Linked DNA regions of Homo sapiens. The protein of the gene in region 1 interacts with the protein of each later gene in a biochemical or structural test. Each region holds a gene or a part of one and is shown on either strand. Other genes may lie near its edges.

Region 1 (8,884 bases):
CTGTGTTTTGTTTAACCTGTTAAGTAGCTGGAGAGAACAGTTTTGAGGAGTTACAGACCTTGAAGGGAGAAGGCAGATGTTGCTGCTTTGGAGTCCTATGTAAAGCAGTATCGAGTCCTGGAATTTCTTTGCCATTGTGGGATGCTAAATGGATTTCCTGTGTCTGGGTCTCATAAGTCCCATCCATGAAGTGGCCGGGCCACTGCATCTTTGGGCCTTGGTCTTTGTTGGGACACCTACGATGATATTTCTTCAGACTAGCTACATGTATCTTGTGAGTGATTTAAAAGGAGGAAGGAGAGGATTTTTTTGGTCTTGATCTTTGTGCACTGTCTTCAGTGTGAATCTTAACAGATTAAACCACTGCGCTAATGAAGCTTGTGTGTGACAGTAATTTGGGGCTGTTTTATCTATCTTCTAGTTTTATGTCCCTTGTGTATGACATTAGGAAAAAATTGAGGTCATGCGTATGACCGTTTTGGACAGTCCTGACTGTCGGGAGCCTGAATGTAAAAAGGCACTAAAGCTAAGGGAGTATGAGATAGCTACTGTCTGTGTATGGGGCAAAGCATGAAATTTGTGCTTTGATAAACATTTCCGAAGTGAACAGTCATATCATAAAGAAGGGTGCAAGTAGATCTATCTGTCCATGATTTTTGTTAATTTGTTTTTAAAGTACACTCGAAGCATAGTAGTGTGGAAGGAATCTTCGGTGTCATCTTGCTCAGACCTCCTTTTTTTTTTTTTAGACAGAGTTTTGCTCGTCACCCAGGCTGGAGTGCAGTGGCACGATCTTGGCTCACTGCAACCTCCACTTCCCGGGTTTAACCAGTTCTCCTGCCTCAGCCTCCCAAGTAGGATTACAGGTGCCCGCCACCACGCCCGGCTAATTTTGTATTTTTATTAGAGATGGGTTTCACCATGTTGGCCAGGCTGGTCTCGAACTGTGTCTGGCCGACGCTTTTTTTTTTTAATATAGGGACTAAAAATTGGTAGCATAGTTTTGTGCACATTAAATGGTAAGAAATAGATAAATATAGGCCGGGCGTGGTGGCTAACGCCTGTAATCCCAGCACTTTGGGAGGCCAAGGTGGGCGGATCACGAGGTCAGGAGATCAAGACCATCCTGGCTGACACAGTGAAACCCCGTCTCTACTAAAAATACAAAAAATTAGCCCGGCGTGGTGGCATGTGCCTGTAGTCCCAGCTACTCGGGAGGCTGAGGCAGGAGAATCGCTTGAACCCAGGAGGCGGAGGTTGCAGTGAGCTGGGATCGCACCGTTGCACTCCAGCCTGGGCAACAGAGTGAGACTCCATCTCAAAAAAAATAAAAAATAGGTGAATACTACAATAAATATGGTGCTTTACCATGAAAAAGACCTGAAGTTTATTTGTGAAAGTGGGCATCAAAGCCAGGCGCGGCGGCTCACGCCTGTAATCTCAGCACTTTGGGAGACTGAGGCAGGTGGATCACGAGGTCAGGAATTGGAGACACACCTGGCCAACATGGTGAAACCCCATCTCTACTAAAAAATACAAAAATTAGCCGTGTGTAGTGGCACGCACCTGTAATCCCAGCTACTTGGGAGGCTGAAGCAGAAGAATTGCTTGAACCTGGGAGGTGGAGGTTGCAATGAGCCAAGATCATGCCACTGCAATCCAGCCTGAGCGACAGAGCAAGACTCTGTCTTGCGGGGGGAAAAGGTGGGCATCAGAAGGGTTGCAGCTTGAGGACTACTATGGAATGGTAGAAGGAGAGTCATCCACAATCAGAGGGAACATTACACTCGTTGAGGATGGGTATGGCTCACAACACACGCTGTAAACTGAGGTCATTGGCAGATAGGTGTTTGAGATGTGTGTGTTTTATGTATCCTGTGTAGCTGGGTGAGGCTTTCCGTATTCACCTAGTGTTTCTCATGGATGGAGTCACATATAAGCAAACATGAACTTCTCATTATAATCAAATTGTTCCCTAATATTTCAGTTGCACTGAAATAAATTGATATTTTCAAAACAAGTATTCTAGCAGAACTACTGGCTTTTGACCCAAGTTCTCATGGTATAACTCATGCTAGTACCAAATCTGTAGCTCTTTGTCTCACATTGTAATAACATAGTTGGTTTCCAGTAACCTGGTGAGGAAAGACATTTCTTTTGGGGGTGCGGGTGTTGATTGCATCTGGCATGTGGCATTCTCAGAATAAAGAGGATCAGTTCAGCCATCCAAAAGCAGCAGAAGTGAGGTAGCAGTTAGGACCCTGGAGCAGAGACCTTTCCTGCCAAGGAGTGGACTAATGACATTGCATTGGTTTTGACAGGTACTTCTAAGTCAGGAGTACAATACAAAGGACATGTGGAGATCCCCAATTTGTCTGATGAAAACAGCGTGGATGAAGTGGAGGTTTGTGCTTCATAACTCCTAATCCGAGTCCTCTATATCCTCTTATTCTCAGATGAGAAAAGTGACCTGTCATTCAGGATTCATAGCCCAGGCTTGGTCCAAGCATTCAGAACCCTAGCCTGCAGATAATTTTCTAGGCATATGGTGCCATTGGAAACTTCTAGAGCAATTTGCACTTCTTTAATTTCTTCACTTTAGCTAGTGACATGGGTTCTAACTAACATTAGCCACTTGACAGAGAGGACTCAAGAAGGAACACTAATGGGGATTGTACGAATACCGCAGTACTCATGCATTTCCTTTGGAAATGTCAGCAGTCACCTGATTGCTCAGCCCCCACATTCCATAATGAGGGTGCCCCTCAAGTTATTTACCACCTACTTCTCATCTTTCACCCAGATTAGTGTGAGCCTTGCCAAAGATGAGCCTGACACAAATCTCGTGGCCTTAATGAAGGAAGAAGGGGTGAAACTTCTAAGAGAAGCAATGGGAATTTACATCAGCACCCTCAAAACAGGTATCCCTTGAGTAGTTCTGTATGCCTTAAGGAGGTAGTTTCCACCTGTTAGACTCTGGTTAAGGGCCTGGACAGTCCTTTCTTTGGCAAATGGGTAAAGATTTGGGGGGAGGGGGCTTATTTCATCTTAAAGTCAGTCCATAAGCTCGGAGTAAGGGAAAGATCTGGAGCTGTGTTGCCTAATAATGATGGTTGAGCATTTTAGATGTGGCTAGACCAAACTGAAATGTACTGTGATGGCCTGGCGCGGTGGCTCACACTTGTAATCCCAGCACTGTTGGATGCTGAGGTGGGCTGATTGCCTGAGCTCAGGAATTTGAGACCAGCCTGGGCAACATGGCGAAACCCTGTCTCTACAAAAAATACAAAAATTAGCTGGATGCGGTGGCCCATGCCTGTAATCCCAGCTACTCGGGAGGCTGAGGTGGGAGAGTGGCTTGAGCCCAGGAGGCAGGGAGGTTGCATTGAGCTGAGATCATGCCACTGCACTCCAGCCTGGATGACCAAAAAACACAAGAGATGTGCTGTGAGTATAAATTACACTACGGGCTGGGCACAGTGGCTCACACCTATAATCCCAGCCCTTTGGGAAGCCGAGGTGGGCGGATCACCTGAGGTCGGGAGTTCGAGACCAGCCTGACCAATAGAGAAACCCCATCTCTACTAAAAATACAAAATTAGCCGGGCATGGTGGTGCATGCTTGTAATCCCAGCTACTCAAGAGGCTGAGGCAGGAGAATTGCTTGAACCCAGGAGGTAAAGGTTGCGGTGAGCCAAGAACGCGCCATTGCACTCCAGCCTGGGTGACAGAGGGAGACTCCATCTCAAAAAAAAAAAAAACAAAAAAAAAACTGTATTTGAGGCTCACATTATATTTCTAATGGACAGCGCTAATCTAAAGACTTGGCATCTCTGGACTCATTACTTGAATACAGTCTGGACTATCTTTGATATGCACTCTCCAGGGATATTTAGATGCTTAGAATAGAAGTCAGCTCAGCTTTCCCCTGGGATTCCATTTCTGCCAGTGTATTCTGATCTTGGTGTTGGAATATGTATAATAACCATCAAAGAAGGTGATGGAAGGTGATAGACACCTTTTTGGGGAGGACCAGTACACCAGTGCCATAACTAGTTGTGGCTTTTCTGCAGAGGTAAGGCAGAGTGGAGGAAAGGCACTAACCATGCATCCATAGGTGCTGGGTAGATTACCCACTCTTGAAGTCATCAAAGTGCCACGGCGTTCACGCCATCCTTCCATAGTAGACCTCACATGCACTTAATATGTTATAATGTTTCCAGTTGAGTCAGGATAAGCTTTTAAAAATAATCCCAGTGGCCAGGTGCAGTGGCTCACACCTGTAATCCCAGCACTTTTGGAGGCCGAGGCTAGTAGATCACAAGGTCAGGAGATCAAGACCATCCTGGCCAACATGGTGAAACCCCGTCTCTACTAAAAATACAAAAATTAGCTGGGCATGGTGGTGCACGCCTATAATCCGAGCTACTCAGGAGGCTGAGGCAGGAGAATAGCTTGAACCAGGGAGTCAGAGGTTGCAGTGAGTTGGAGTGCAGGCTGCACTCCAGCCTGGTGACAGAGCAAGACTCCATCTCAAAAAAAAAATAATAATAATCCCAGTGAACATACTGTATTCTATAGCATATACCCAGGTACCAGTCTGGCATAGGCCAAAAGTAAAGATGTAAAAATAGCCTCTTCCTTTTCTGGTCATAACCTCATTCTGTGGTAGGATGGCTGTGTTTGTCAAGCTGTAATGAAACTCCAGATCTCAGCTACTAAGAAGTAACTTCCATGAGCTGGAATTTTATCTTTTCAGAGTTCACCCAGGGCATGATCTTACCTACAATGAATGGAGAGTCAGTAGACCCAGTGGGGCAGCCAGCACTGAAAACTGAGGAGCGCAAGGTAAATGGTTTTCCTGGGGTGGGAGACTGTCTGCAAAGGAACTTGAGAGACCGCCTTCTTAATTCCACATATCAGCTCTCTGTGTCCCTAACCTCTAAGCCAGACCAGCCTGCGATCTGCTCATGGTGCTTTTTCAGAGCGCCTGCAATATGCATTCATTCACCCATCTTTAACCTGGTTTTAATTCATTTATCGCAGACCTTTAGAGCAAGTAGGAGCTATCAGACAGTTAAAAGTCTGACTCTTGATTGCATTTAGCACCAGTTAGGAGGTTATGAACAAAGGATGGACTTCACCTATATAAGTCTTCAGTCTAATTGGTGTGTTGATATTTCATACTTTGATATTAGAGGTCCCATCAAGAAATGGAGTTACATCCCTGTCTTCACCCAATCTCCCCAATTTTCAGGGTGAGCAAGTACTTTATCTAGAGATGGAAGTTTGTGGTTCAAGCTCAGCACTTGGTTTAGAGCCCTGTTGCTCTTTTGTCAGCATAGTGAAGTGGATACTCTGGAAGTGGGGAGAAAACCGCTTCCAGCTATTTAAACATAGAAATTGTTTGAGAATTACACTGAGCTCTTCAAAAATATCTCAATGATTTGATTTGTTATTTGACTATCAGGGTCTTCCTTGTAGAGTGGTTATTTTTACTGGGAATTGAGGAGGTTTCCAGAATCATTACCCTCATGACTGAAACACCTACACACTCAAATTCCCTTCAAACCCCTTGGAATAATTACCCTTGGAGGTGAACATTTTTATGAGAATGAATGGTACAACTGTCTCTGAAGCCACGTTGATTGAGGTTGTATCATTACTCTGTATTGATCATTTTCACTGCCACCTTCACAGGCTAAGCCTGCTCCTTCAAAAACCCAGGCCAGACCTGTTGGAGTCAAAATCCCCACTTGTAAGATCACTCTTAAGGAAACCTTCCTGACGTCACCAGAGGAGCTCTATAGAGTGTTTACCACCCAAGAGGTAAGTAAGTCTTGTCCTTCAGGCCTCATGCCATCTGCCCTTCTAGGTGACTTGAGTTGGGGGCATATCCCTTCAGCAGTGTACAGAAGAGGTACTCACAAACTCACAACTGGAGCCATGAGGCCTTCATCAAAGTGAATTTTTCCCTCCCTCTATTCTCTTTTTTTTTTTTTGAGACGGAGTCTCGCTCTGTCACCTGCCCAGGCTGGAGTGCAGTGGCACAATCTCAGCTCACTGCAACCTCTGCCTCCCAGGTTCCAGCAATTCTCCTGCCTCAGCGTCCTGAACAGCTGGTACTATAGGCACACGCCATCACGCCTAGCTAATTTTTATGTTTTTTAGTAGAGATGGGGTTTCACCATATTTTTTAGTAGAGATGGGCTGGTCTGAAACTCCTGACCTCAAGTGATCTGCCTGCCTCAGCCTCCCAAAGTGCTGGGATTACAGGTGCAAACCACTGTGCTCGGCCATATTTATTTATTTTAAAAACAAAAGACCTGGTCTTGCTATGTTGCCCAGACTAACGTTGAACTTCTGGGCTCAAGCGATCCTCCTTCCTCAGCCTCCTGAGTAGCTGGGACTACAGGTGCACACTACCGTGCCTGTTCCAGTTTTGGGTCATATAAGTAGAAACCACTGAGTGAATCTTACTAGAAAAGTGAATGGCCATTCTTGGTTACTCTGTAGCACAGAAGAATTCCTGGCTTCTTTGTGTTGCACAGCTGACTTGTGCCATTCTGCTGCTATAGTGTGGAGTTGAGAAACATGACCGTATTCAGCTTTATTATCTGATAGTAAAGGTGGTTAGGATATGTGGAAGTTCCCATATACTCTGGGACAAAATTTCAAGATCTTATTTTTTAAACAAAAATGTAAATACAGCCATAAATTAAGAGGTACCATGTAGTATATGGGTGTTAGTATGTCTGTGCGCCTGCACCCAAAATACTCTCGTGATAAGTTCTCTCCCCCTTAGAAAACCAAGAACTGGAGAAGCAATTAAATGGACTGGGTTTTCTAGAAATTTAAAAAGATGTGTATAAACAAAATTGTACTGTACTTCAGAAAGTTATCTTAGTTGACTCCAGAGATGTGTTATGACCTGGCTATGCCAAAGACTGCATTCGATGGCTAACTTGGTTCTACTTGGTGCCTGCTGCCTTGAAGGACTTAGCAGCATAGCTGTGGTCTTCATGTGAATTGAATTTAGCACTTCAACACAGACTTCAGTTGAATCTCTGCTTCCAAACTAGCTAAAGTTTTCAGAGTTTTAAAATACTTTTGTATGGGAGGATTCCTAACATTTTTAACCTTCTGTTTATTTTTAATTTTGTACCATGTATTCGTATTACCTACTTTAAAAAATAGTAAAGTCTTATTAAAAGTAAAAGCGGCACCGTTGGGTAATCGAACACAGCAAAATGATACTGATTTCATATATATGGAGTAGGCCAGGCACAGTGGCTTACATCTCTAATCCCAGCACTTTGAGGGGCTGAGGCGGGTGAATTACTTGAGCCCAGGAGTTTGAGACCAGCCTGGCCAACATGGTGAAGCCCTGTCTCTACAAAAAATACAAAAATTAGCCAGGTATGGTGGTATGCGCCTGTAGTCCCAGCTCCTCAGGAGGCTGAGGTGGGAGGATCACCTAAGCTTAGGAGGTCGGGGCTGCAGTGAGCCATGATCATGCCACTGCACTTCGGCCTGGGCAACAGAGCGAGACCTATCTCAAAAAAAATAAAAGGGCTGGGCGCGGTGGCTCACGCCTGTAATCCCAGCACTTTGGGAGGCCAAGGTGGGTGGATCACGAGGTCAGGAGTTCAAGACCAGCCTGGCCAAGATGGTGAAACCCCATCTCTACTAAAAAATACAAAAAGTTAGCCAGGCATGGTGGCATGCGCCTGTAATCCCAGCTACTACAGAGGCTGAAGCAGAGAATTGCTTAAAACCTGGACGGGCGGAGGTTGCGTGAGCCGAGATCGCGCCACTGCACTCCAGCCTGGGCAACAAAGTGAGACTCCGTCTCAATAAATAAAAAAATAAAATAAAATAAAAGATGGAATAGATCTATTTTGGGACATGTTCTCAGAAATGATAATAGAAGTCTCAAACATTTACTTGAGAATTTTCTTTCATAAGCTCATTCTTATATCTTTCTGAACCATATACAATTTCAAATAAATAAAAGTAAACGGGTCCAAAGTAATGGCATCATCAGATCAGAAAGAATTCCCGAAGTCAAGTCCTGGCTGGTATTAAAACAGAATAGAGGGACACCCTGGACCCGCCTGTGGGGCAGACTGGTGGAAATGAGAGTTGAGGCATGCAGCCTTCAGCTGGCATTTGTCCTTGGGTCCCACTGAAAGCCATGTATCTTCTGCCTCTTTTTTTTTTTTTTTTTTTTTTTCCCTGCAGCTGGTGCAGGCCTTTACCCATGCTCCTGCAACATTAGAAGCAGACAGAGGTGGAAAGTTCCACATGGTAGATGGCAACGTCTCTGGGGAATTTACTGATCTGGTGAGTACCTGCCGGCCCTAGACTCAGGTTATTGCCTCTGGTCAGATGAGTGACATTTCTCTTTTTCTGAACTCTATAGGTAAAATGTAAGGCTTTAATCTCTTTGTTAATAAAACATTTTGTTTTTCAAAAAAAGGCTGTGATTTGAACTGTCTTGCAAGTAATATAATTGCACAGATGGTAGACTCCGTATGAAGGGCAGATGACTGATCCTAGCTAGGATTGGGTACATTGTAGTATATAATATAGACTGAGCTGTTTGATTATTTTAGGTCCCTGAGAAACATATTGTGATGAAGTGGAGGTTTAAATCTTGGCCAGAGGGTAAGTAAACATATTTATTGCCATTACCCCCAGAACTTTTTCTCTTTGCTGTAATTTTTTTTTTTTTTTTTTTGGAAACAGGGTCTCACTGTCACTCAGGCTAGAGTGCAGTGGCATAATCACAGCAAACTGCAGCCTTAACCTCCCAGACCCAAACGATCCTCCTGCTTCAGCTTCCCAAGTAGCTGAGACTACGTGTGCCACCATGCCAGCT
Region 2 (8,884 bases), on another chromosome or scaffold:
AATCCCAGACATTGTATCACTTGTAGACTTGAGTTTTGACTTCTCCCTTGCCCTCCCCTCACCCTGCCCTGCATGGGACCAGCCAGAACAGATCTGGCCCTTTAAGTGTTTTCCCAGCCCAGGTATGATGATATGAAGCAACCCCCTTCCTTGTCTCCACTGGCCTGGGGCCTTGAGGAGCTGAGACAGCCTCAGCTGTCTGACTTCCACTGGGAAGTATGTTCTCTCTCTGGGTCCCACGCAGGGTTTGGAAGGAAACACTGCCTCCCTCGGTCACTGACCCAGAAGACAAACAGCCATGAGCAGGGCAATTCATGTGCGTGCTTGTTCAGGACTGCGGTGTAAAATGCTGCTCATATTGTGAAATCAGATCTCTTCTACTCAGGCTCTCCCAGAATCCAGCAACATGGCCTGGCCTGACCCTGGCCCCAGAGGACAGTTAGTGTAGTGGGAGTGGGGCAGGCTAAAAGTGGTTGGAGCTCTTGTATACCCCACACAGACACACGTGCTCTGCCTCAGGATGGAAGCGGAGGGCCACCAGACCTGGGGGAGCTGCTCTGTCCTCTTCACATGTGGGGCAGGTAGGGGTCTAATTATCTAGCTGTGGGAAGAAGTAGATGGACCTGCCTTTTCGGGCTAGTTCTTGTGTGTGCATACAAGCACTGGGAGATGAAGTGGATGGTCTTGAAGCTTGATAGAGGACCTGAGGTGCCTCAGGTAAGGCTAGACACACCAAGGCAAAGTGCAACCAAGACTGCCCTGCTAGTTAGCCCAGTCTGTCCTCACCCTGTTCATGTTAGGAGAAAAGTCAATGCAAGTGGTCTGGGGAAATTGTGGGACATACAGAAAGCGCAGTGACACAAAACACCTGATTGATATGGCCACCTGGGTTCAGCACAGTTCTGTACCTCTGCTTCAAAGCAAAAACTGGCCTCCTTGATAAAGGCTACCCTGGATCAAGGTGAGTACAGGTTGGAGAATGGGTGTAGAGAAGGTAGGATGAATGAACAAGGGAAAGGGTGGGAAGTGTGGGAATGGAGGGTGGAGAGTAGAGGGCAGGGATGACCACAAAGTCACCCTGCATGCAGTCAACACCCAGAATTCAAAAAGCTGTTGTTCTTTTCTTCTGTGAGTCTGTCTGCTGGCCTCTGTCTATTATTTTTTTAGTCTTCCACAAGGCAGACACTGATCATTCTCTCTCTGTCCAGATTTATGGCCATCACAAAGAACAATTCTCAGACAGGGAGCAGGACATAGGGATGCCCAAGAAGACAGGCTCCAGTTCTACCGTGGACAGCAAGGATGAGGATCACTATTCTAAATGTCAAGGTGATGGGGACTGAGGAATAAAGAAATCTGGAGTAGAAACAGGTACAGGGATTAGGAGAATAACTTGGGCATCCCATTGCACGTACGTACTCCCTGCCCTGCTACAAAAACTCTCCTCTAATTGTTTTTAAGAGACAGGGTCTCACTCTGTCATTCAGACTGAAGTGCAGTGGAGTGATCATAGCTCACTGCAGCCTAGAACTCCTGGGCTCAAGTGATCCTCCTGCCTCAGCCTCTCCAGTAGCTGAGACTATAGGCACATGCCACCATGCCCAGCTAATTTTAAAACTTTTTTTGTAAGGATGCTGAGGCTGGTCTTGAACTCCTGGCATCAAGCAATCCTCCCGCCTTAGCCTCCCAAATTCCTGGGATTAGAGGCGTGAGCCACCATGCTTGGCCCCTCTAAGTATTAAGGAAAAGGCACCTCTCTTCACCTCCTTCGCACTTTGCCTATTCCCTGTTATTCCTCCCACAACTCCAAGAAATGAGTTTTAGGAAGGAATTCAAGTATTCATGGGGAACTGGGCTTTGGTGCCTTTTGCAGGGGCCGGAGCAGCAATCAGCAGAGGGGTAATGAGAAACTCAGTGCATAAGACATACGGACCCTGGGGGCCCAAGGCTTCCCCTCCCATCTTGGGTATAGCACCCAAAGTAAAGTAGTGACTCGTTAGCTGCTTTTCTCTCTCTCTCTCTCTCTCTCTCTCTCTCTCTGTCTCTACATATATATATTTTTGTTTGTTTGTTTGTTTGTTGTTTGTTTGTTTGTTTTTTCCCTCATCTCTTCCTAGATTGTATCCACCGCCTGGGACAGGTGGTGAGAAGAAAATTAGGGGAAGACGGGATCTTTCTGGTGCTTCTGGGACTGCTGATGGCTCTGGTCAGCTGGAGCATGGACTACGTCAGTGCCAAAAGCCTTCAGGGTAGGTTTAACCTGGACCTTTGCCCACAGCCGTTTCTGGAGTTTCTACCTAGGGTAAGCAGGGTGTGTTATCGGAAGCGAATGTTAAGCAGGGTGTGTTATGGGAAGCGAATATTGCGCAGAGAGGGATCAGGTGGGACTCCAGGCCCAGAAAAGACCAGACCCAGGCCTGCTCCACTTCTCACGCCCCTCCACTCACTGCCACCCAAGCAGTGGATGCCCCTCTAATAGGGTGGCCAACTTGCCCCAGTTCCCCAGGGACTTTCCCAGTTTCAGCACTGAACATCCCGAATCCCAGGAAGCCCCTTGGTTCTGGGCACACCGGGTGGTTGGTCACACCCAGGCCTCCAGACCCTGTACTCCAGTGGGATTCGTGACACAGCCACCAACTGGAACAGGCCATGTCGCCTCCATAACTCAGGCTTCCCATGTGTCAAATGAGAGCAGCACCATCTCAGAAGGGGCACACAGAAGGAGCACGGCCTGAGAACATGCCGGGTACACGTCCTGGTGCCGTGGACACGGCTGCTCAGCCATGTTCTGCCTAACCCCAGGCATGTGTCTCCGCAGCCTACAAGTGGTCCTACGCGCAGATGCAGCCCAGCCTTCCTCTGCAGTTCCTGGTCTGGGTCACCTTCCCACTAGTCCTCATCCTCTTCAGCGCCCTCTTCTGCCACCTCATCTCTCCCCAGGCTGTTGGTGAGAACTTGCCACCAGACTCGGCCTGAGCTGGGTGGCCTGAGAGGGGCCCTGTCTGTCTCCCCCATCATCCAGCCCCACCCACAGCCCTGTGCTGCCTTGCCCCATCCTCCCCACCACTGCCTCTTCAGCCCTCTCCAATTCCCATTCCCATATTCTGGACATTCATCTCCCTTTTCACCTTCACCTTGACCCTGCACATAATCTTTCAACGCTTTTAGGCTCTGGAATCCCCGAAATGAAGACAATACTTCGTGGGGTTGTCCTGAAGGAATACCTCACAATGAAAGCCTTTGTGGCCAAGGTTGTCGCCCTGACTGCGGGCCTGGGCAGTGGCATCCCCGTGGGGAAAGAGGTAGGCCTGGCATGACTGAAGCCAGAGCTGGGAGGGGCCCTCAGGAGCCAGGGTGGCACCAACTCTAGAGGGAGCTCTGGGAGTGGAAGTGGATCAGGGGACAGGACCAAGGCCAGGGCCAGGGGACACTAGGAAGGGGAAATGCTTTGGAAGTTCCTCCAACTGAGGTCCAATGACAAAAACCACACAGCTTGGGGAGCTTGGAGCAGGCTCTTAGCCTGGACACCCCTGACATTTGGGGCTGGAAAACTCTGTGCTGTGGGGAGGCTGTTCTGTGCAGTGGAGGGGACTTAGCAGCATTGCTGGCCTCTGACCCTTCCTAGATGCCCAGCTGCATCGCCCAGTTGTGACACCAGCATGTCCTCAGACATTGCCATATGGACCCTGGAGGACAAAATCTCCCCTGGTTGAGAACACTGTCTTAGAGATCATCCAGACCAATTCTCTTGCTTGAATCTGAGAAAACTAGGACTGAGAAAGAGGCTGTGCTATTTTCAAGGTTGCTCGGTGGGTTGCAGCCTCCTTCCGTTCTCTGCTGGTGTTCATCTTTGCCCCCTACTGCCATATTCCACCCAGCAGCCAGAGGCATCTTTTAAAAATGGGATCAGTCTCATCTGACCCCTGGTCAAAAACTTCTTAAGGCTTTCCATGCCTCTTAAAACAAAATTGAAAGTTTTGTTGTTGTTGTTGTTGAGACAGTGTCTAGCTCGCTTGCCCAAGCTGGAGTGCAGTGGTGCGATCTTGGCTCACTGCAACCTCCACCTCCCAGGTTCAAGCGATTCTCCCACCTCAGCTTCCCGAGTAGCTGGGACTGCAGGCACACGCCACCACATCTGGTAATTTTTGTATTTTTAGTGGAGATAGGGTTTCACCATATTGGTCAGGCTGGTCTCAAACTCCTGACCTCGGGTGATCACCTGCCTTGGCCTTGCAAAGTGCTGGGATTACAGGCGTGCGCCACCGCGCCCGGCCTTATCAGAACTTCTTGCGTGGCCTTCGAGACCGTGGACTCTGGTTCCTCCTCTCTGCAGGCCTGTGCCCCTGCTTTCCTGTGTTTGGCTCACAAGTTTCCTTTCTGTCCCTCAGTCACTCTGCCCTGGGCCCCTCAGGGCGCCTGTGTGCTGTTTTCTCAGCCTGGAACATTCTTCCTCCTGACATCTGCGCGGCTCCCTCCCTCCCATCATTCAAAGCTCTACTTTAGGCAGGCTCCTCAGGCCCTTTCCTCTAAACACGTGCCCTCCCACCCTCCTCCACCCTGGCTCTCTGGAGAGGAGAAACACACTGGTTTCTCCTCTTCTTCCTCTCTGGGATGAGGCCTCGTGAGGGCAGGACCTCTGTGTAACTCCCGTATTTCCAGCCCCTGGCACAGTGCCTGGAGTAAGGAATATTATTAGTCCAGTGAGTGCTGCAGAGCCTCCATCTGGCCTCTGACCCCCGCCCCCTCGCTCCCCCTCTCCCAGGGCCCCTTCGTCCACATTGCCAGCATCTGTGCTGCTGTCCTCAGCAAATTCATGTCTGTGTTCTGCGGGGTATATGAGGTAAGGTTGAGACAGTGAAATGAGCTGGGGCCAGGTGGTAGAAGGAGTCCGGCTGTGTGTCCAGGGTGTTGGGAGGGCTGCCTCTGCTCTGGGCTGGCTGTGGTGCTGAAGCAGCATCGCACTAATCCACGCTCCCTTCCTCGTCTCCCTGTCTGCCTACCCTGGCCACGTGATGCCTCTGTTTAGCCTGTGCCTGTCCTCCAAATGTCCACCCCTCTTTCACCTGTGGCCCCACATGGAGGTCTGGTCTGTCGTCTGCTCCCATGCTCTCCCTGCTAGTCCATACCACCCCCTCTGTGTTAGTTTCCCTCCACGTTTCCCTCGTGTGCTCCCCCATCCCTTTGTAGCTCCCAATCCCTCACCCTACCTCTTACATACGTCCCGCCTGCCCCACCCCTCCACCCCCTTGTCCCGCGTGCTTCTCTGTTGCAGACCGTGCCTGGGCAGCTTGACCTCCTGGTGTCGGCCTGTGCAGTGGGCGTGGGATGCTGCTTTGCAGCCCCTGTCGGAGGCAAGTTGCACTTCCTCCCTATCCCGGTTGCCTAAGCAAGACTTAGAAGGGGGTTTTGGGTGGCTGCCACAAGCTTTGGAGTGGGCATCCAGGGAATGACTGTGGATCACAGCCCCTGCGGTCCAGATACCTATATTTTTTCAGCAAAGGGCTGTGTATTATTTTGAGACTGCTTGCTGTTTGGTGCAGGATTTATTAGTACTGCTTTCTGGAGTTCTTGCTGTCTCTTTTCTGCTTATCATTTATTGATTTACGTGCCTGGCATATATTTGCCTAACTTTTATTTCATTTTCTACCTTCTATTTCATTTTGACACTGTGCTATGAGGTTAATTCCTTTTTGCCAAACTCACTGAGTTTCTCTTGGCCTGGGAATCACAGGGGACATGGGACCACAAGGACTCCTTTTGACTTAGGCCTCTCATTCTGCCTTATTCCCCATCCCTGCTTGTTCTGTCCTCTGCCTGCCCACCTCCCTCTCTTCCACCTGTTTCTCTGTCTGTCTCTCCCCTAGTAGCAGCCATACTACTACTCTGATATCCTGACGGTGGGCTGTGCTGTGGGAGTCGGCTGTTGTTTTGGGACACCACTTGGAGGCAAGTGATTGACCCCCTCCCCCATCAATCGGCTTGCCTGGCCTGGCTCCCAAAACAGTTTTAATCAGTATCCACAAGTGCTGGTATTACCAGGTTACTTACGAGAATAGCTGACTTTTAGTAAGCCTTTGCTATGTGCCAGGCAATGTTTAAAGCACTTACTTTTATTCCTGGCCAAAGCCATATGAGACAGATATTACAGAGGAGGAAGAGGAGAGAACTGAGTTACAGAGAGGGACAGTGACTTGAGCAAGTTCATTCTGTTAGTAAGGTACAAGCCAGGAATTAAAACCAAGGCAGTCTCCGTGGCTCCCCTACTTATTTTCAAACCTGTTTGTATTGTTGGATGTTTTTGCCCTACACCGATGACATCTCTAACAGGGGACTCTATGAACTTCCTCCTTCAAGGGAAAAATCCACATTTTGTTGTGCTTTATTAATTGCATGGGAATTCAGGTAGACCTTATTTAGATTAATGGTAAGCTTTTAGTGTGGAATAGTTAGGAGAGTTTCAAAGGATAAATGTCCCTTGATAGCAATTTAAAGTTAAGTTTAGCTCTTTCTCCAAGTATAAGGCAAATAGCGATCTCTCAGATTATTTTCCTTATCATGGATGATTAACAAATGGATGTAGTCGGAGAAAGCAGTCGTATCTGTTTATTGACTCATCAAAATCAATTATAGCTAGATTAGCAGGGCAGGATTATATAGATCATTCACTGGATTCATTGATGATAAAAAGGACACCAAGTTGATATGTGAAGAAACAAAATTGCAGGAAGGGCATATGCTTCTTAAATGACCCACTGTTAGAGGTTTCTTTTCAGTTATGGAAATGTTAAGCAATCTTTTCATAGAATCTTCCAGGGAACTAAAATGACTTGGTGCAGGAATGATAAGTGGAGAAGAGTTTAAAGTTAATGCAAATGCATGATCTAACTTATGCAAACACTGTGGCAAAGCACACAGACTAAGGAACCCAAGTTAGCAAGCACATCAGCTAGCATCCTGTTTACATTTCTGTCCTCAGCTCTACTCATTAAAATCACTAATCCTTGTCAGTGGAGGATAGTGTATTTGGATTTTTGCACATGTTAAACGTTCACACTTACATTTATACCCACTTTTGCCTTTATTTACTCGTTAGCCTTTCAAATCCAGGAGGTTTAAATAATATTTTTAGACTGGGAGACTTCTGTTGTTTTGTTTTAATCAGCCAGATTCTCTTAACATGAAGAGAATTTGCATTTTCCTCGTAAAATTGGAATTTCTGAGAAGAATCAGAAAAGTTCTTCTTGGTCCTGTGTCAAGTATGGGAGAGGTAAAGATCACAGAGAAGTTACAGGCAACAGTTCTGAAACCACTGTGGTAGAAAAAGGAAGAAAAAATTCACAGATAAAACATTGCTGTTGACACAAGAAATTGTTAAGTACTTAAAAATTAAGGTGCCATGTTTACGCTGTTTGTATTATGTGGTAAATGACAAAGGTATTTGCAGGTGGCATTACTTGTTTTTTTTGTTTGTTTGTTTGTTTGTTTGTTTAGATGGAGTCTTGCTCTGTCACCCAGGCTGGAGTGCAGTGGCACCATCTTGGCTCACTGCAACCTCTGTCTCCTGGGTTCAAGCAATTCTCATGCCTCAGTCTCCCAAGTAGCTGGGATTACAGGCCTGCGCCATCACGCCTGGCTAATTTTTTGTATTTTTAGTAGAGACAGGGTTTAACCATGTTGGCCAGGCTGCTCTCAACCTCCTGACCTCAAGTGATCCGCCCACCTTGGCCTATTACTTGATTTTTAAAAAAGAATACCGAATAATTCTGAAAGGAAAATTAGTATCAAAATGAGGTATTCATTATGGAGTCAGCTCTTAATTTCTTACACTAATGAAATAAATGGAATTCAGCATTCTACTGAAATGACAAGCATCTTGCTCCCATTCTGTACCAGGCCCTGTGTTGGATCTTGCACACTCAGGGTGCTCCTAGTTGAGAGGCTGGACAGGCAGGCAAACCTATTGTCATAGCTCACTCGAAAAAGTGGCCCAATGGCAGCTGGGGTAAAGTGCAGTGGGGACCTTATGCTAACCTGCCTACAAGAGCCCATGAAGCTTCACAAAAGAGGTGGTGTTTGACATGAGGCTTGAATAATAAGTAGGACTGGCAAGGAGGATGGTGGGCAAGGTATTCTGGACAGAGGAAACAGCATTGCAAAGTCAAGATGGGGGCAGTAGCTGAGTATTACCAGGGGATACAGAGGAAGGAATAATAGCAAATGAGGCTGGACAAGTAAAGGGGGGCTGAATTATGAAGACTCTCATGGCTATGTATAAGAATATGGAATTTATTCTCTAGACTAGGATTTGCACGAATGTGTTTCATGGTTTACTAGATCTAATGTGTAAAAATGGTTCTATAAACCAGTTGGAAAATGCTTGGTTAAAGAGAGTTTTTTTTAAACTAAAAAAGTTATCAGTGGCCAGGCACAGTGGCTCATGCCCATAATCCCAGCACTTTGGGAGGCCAAGGCAGGCGGATCATGAGGTCAGGAGTTCAAGAACAGCCTGGCCAATATGGTGAAACCCCATCTCTATTAAGAATACAAAAATTAGCTGGGTGTGGTGGCAGGCACTTGTAGTCCCAGCTACTTGGGAGGCTAAGGTGGAAGAATCACTTGAACCTGGGAGGTGGAGGTTGTAGCAAGCTGAGATCGCGCGTCACTGCACTCCAGTCCGGGCAACAGAGTGAGACTCCATCTTAAAAAAAAAAAAAAAGAAAAGTTACCAGAACATTTGATATGCTGACACACATTGGGAATATCCAAAATGTGTCTCTAATGCAGCATTTCCCACAGAACCCTGTCTCGTGGGCATGGGATTTGTAGTATCTCACAGACCTGACTTCGGGAAATACTGTCGGGGTGAATTAAAGTCATGAAATAC

What was found. The genes of interacting proteins can lie anywhere in the genome.
Region 2: the proteins of AHSA1 (region 1) and CLCN1 form a complex in vitro, tested with the Homo sapiens proteins (one study listed by BioGRID).

Annotation. Positions count from the first base shown.
Region 1 is NC_000014.9:77,459,839-77,468,722, forward strand, and holds part of AHSA1 (activator of 90 kDa heat shock protein ATPase homolog 1), read left to right. Parts: intron 1-2,321; coding exon 2,322-2,404; intron 2,405-2,803; coding exon 2,804-2,921; intron 2,922-4,759; coding exon 4,760-4,848; intron 4,849-5,700; coding exon 5,701-5,829; intron 5,830-8,244; coding exon 8,245-8,346; intron 8,347-8,618; coding exon 8,619-8,670; intron 8,671-8,884. UniProt on the Homo sapiens protein: Acts as a co-chaperone of HSP90AA1. Activates the ATPase activity of HSP90AA1 leading to increase in its chaperone activity.
Region 2 is NC_000007.14:143,318,547-143,327,430, forward strand, and holds part of CLCN1 (chloride channel protein 1), read left to right. Parts: intron 1-1,208; coding exon 1,209-1,329; intron 1,330-2,117; coding exon 2,118-2,249; intron 2,250-2,818; coding exon 2,819-2,947; intron 2,948-3,168; coding exon 3,169-3,302; intron 3,303-4,762; coding exon 4,763-4,840; intron 4,841-5,864; exon of another isoform or gene 5,865-5,867; coding exon 5,868-5,946; intron 5,947-8,884. UniProt on the Homo sapiens protein: Voltage-gated chloride channel involved in skeletal muscle excitability.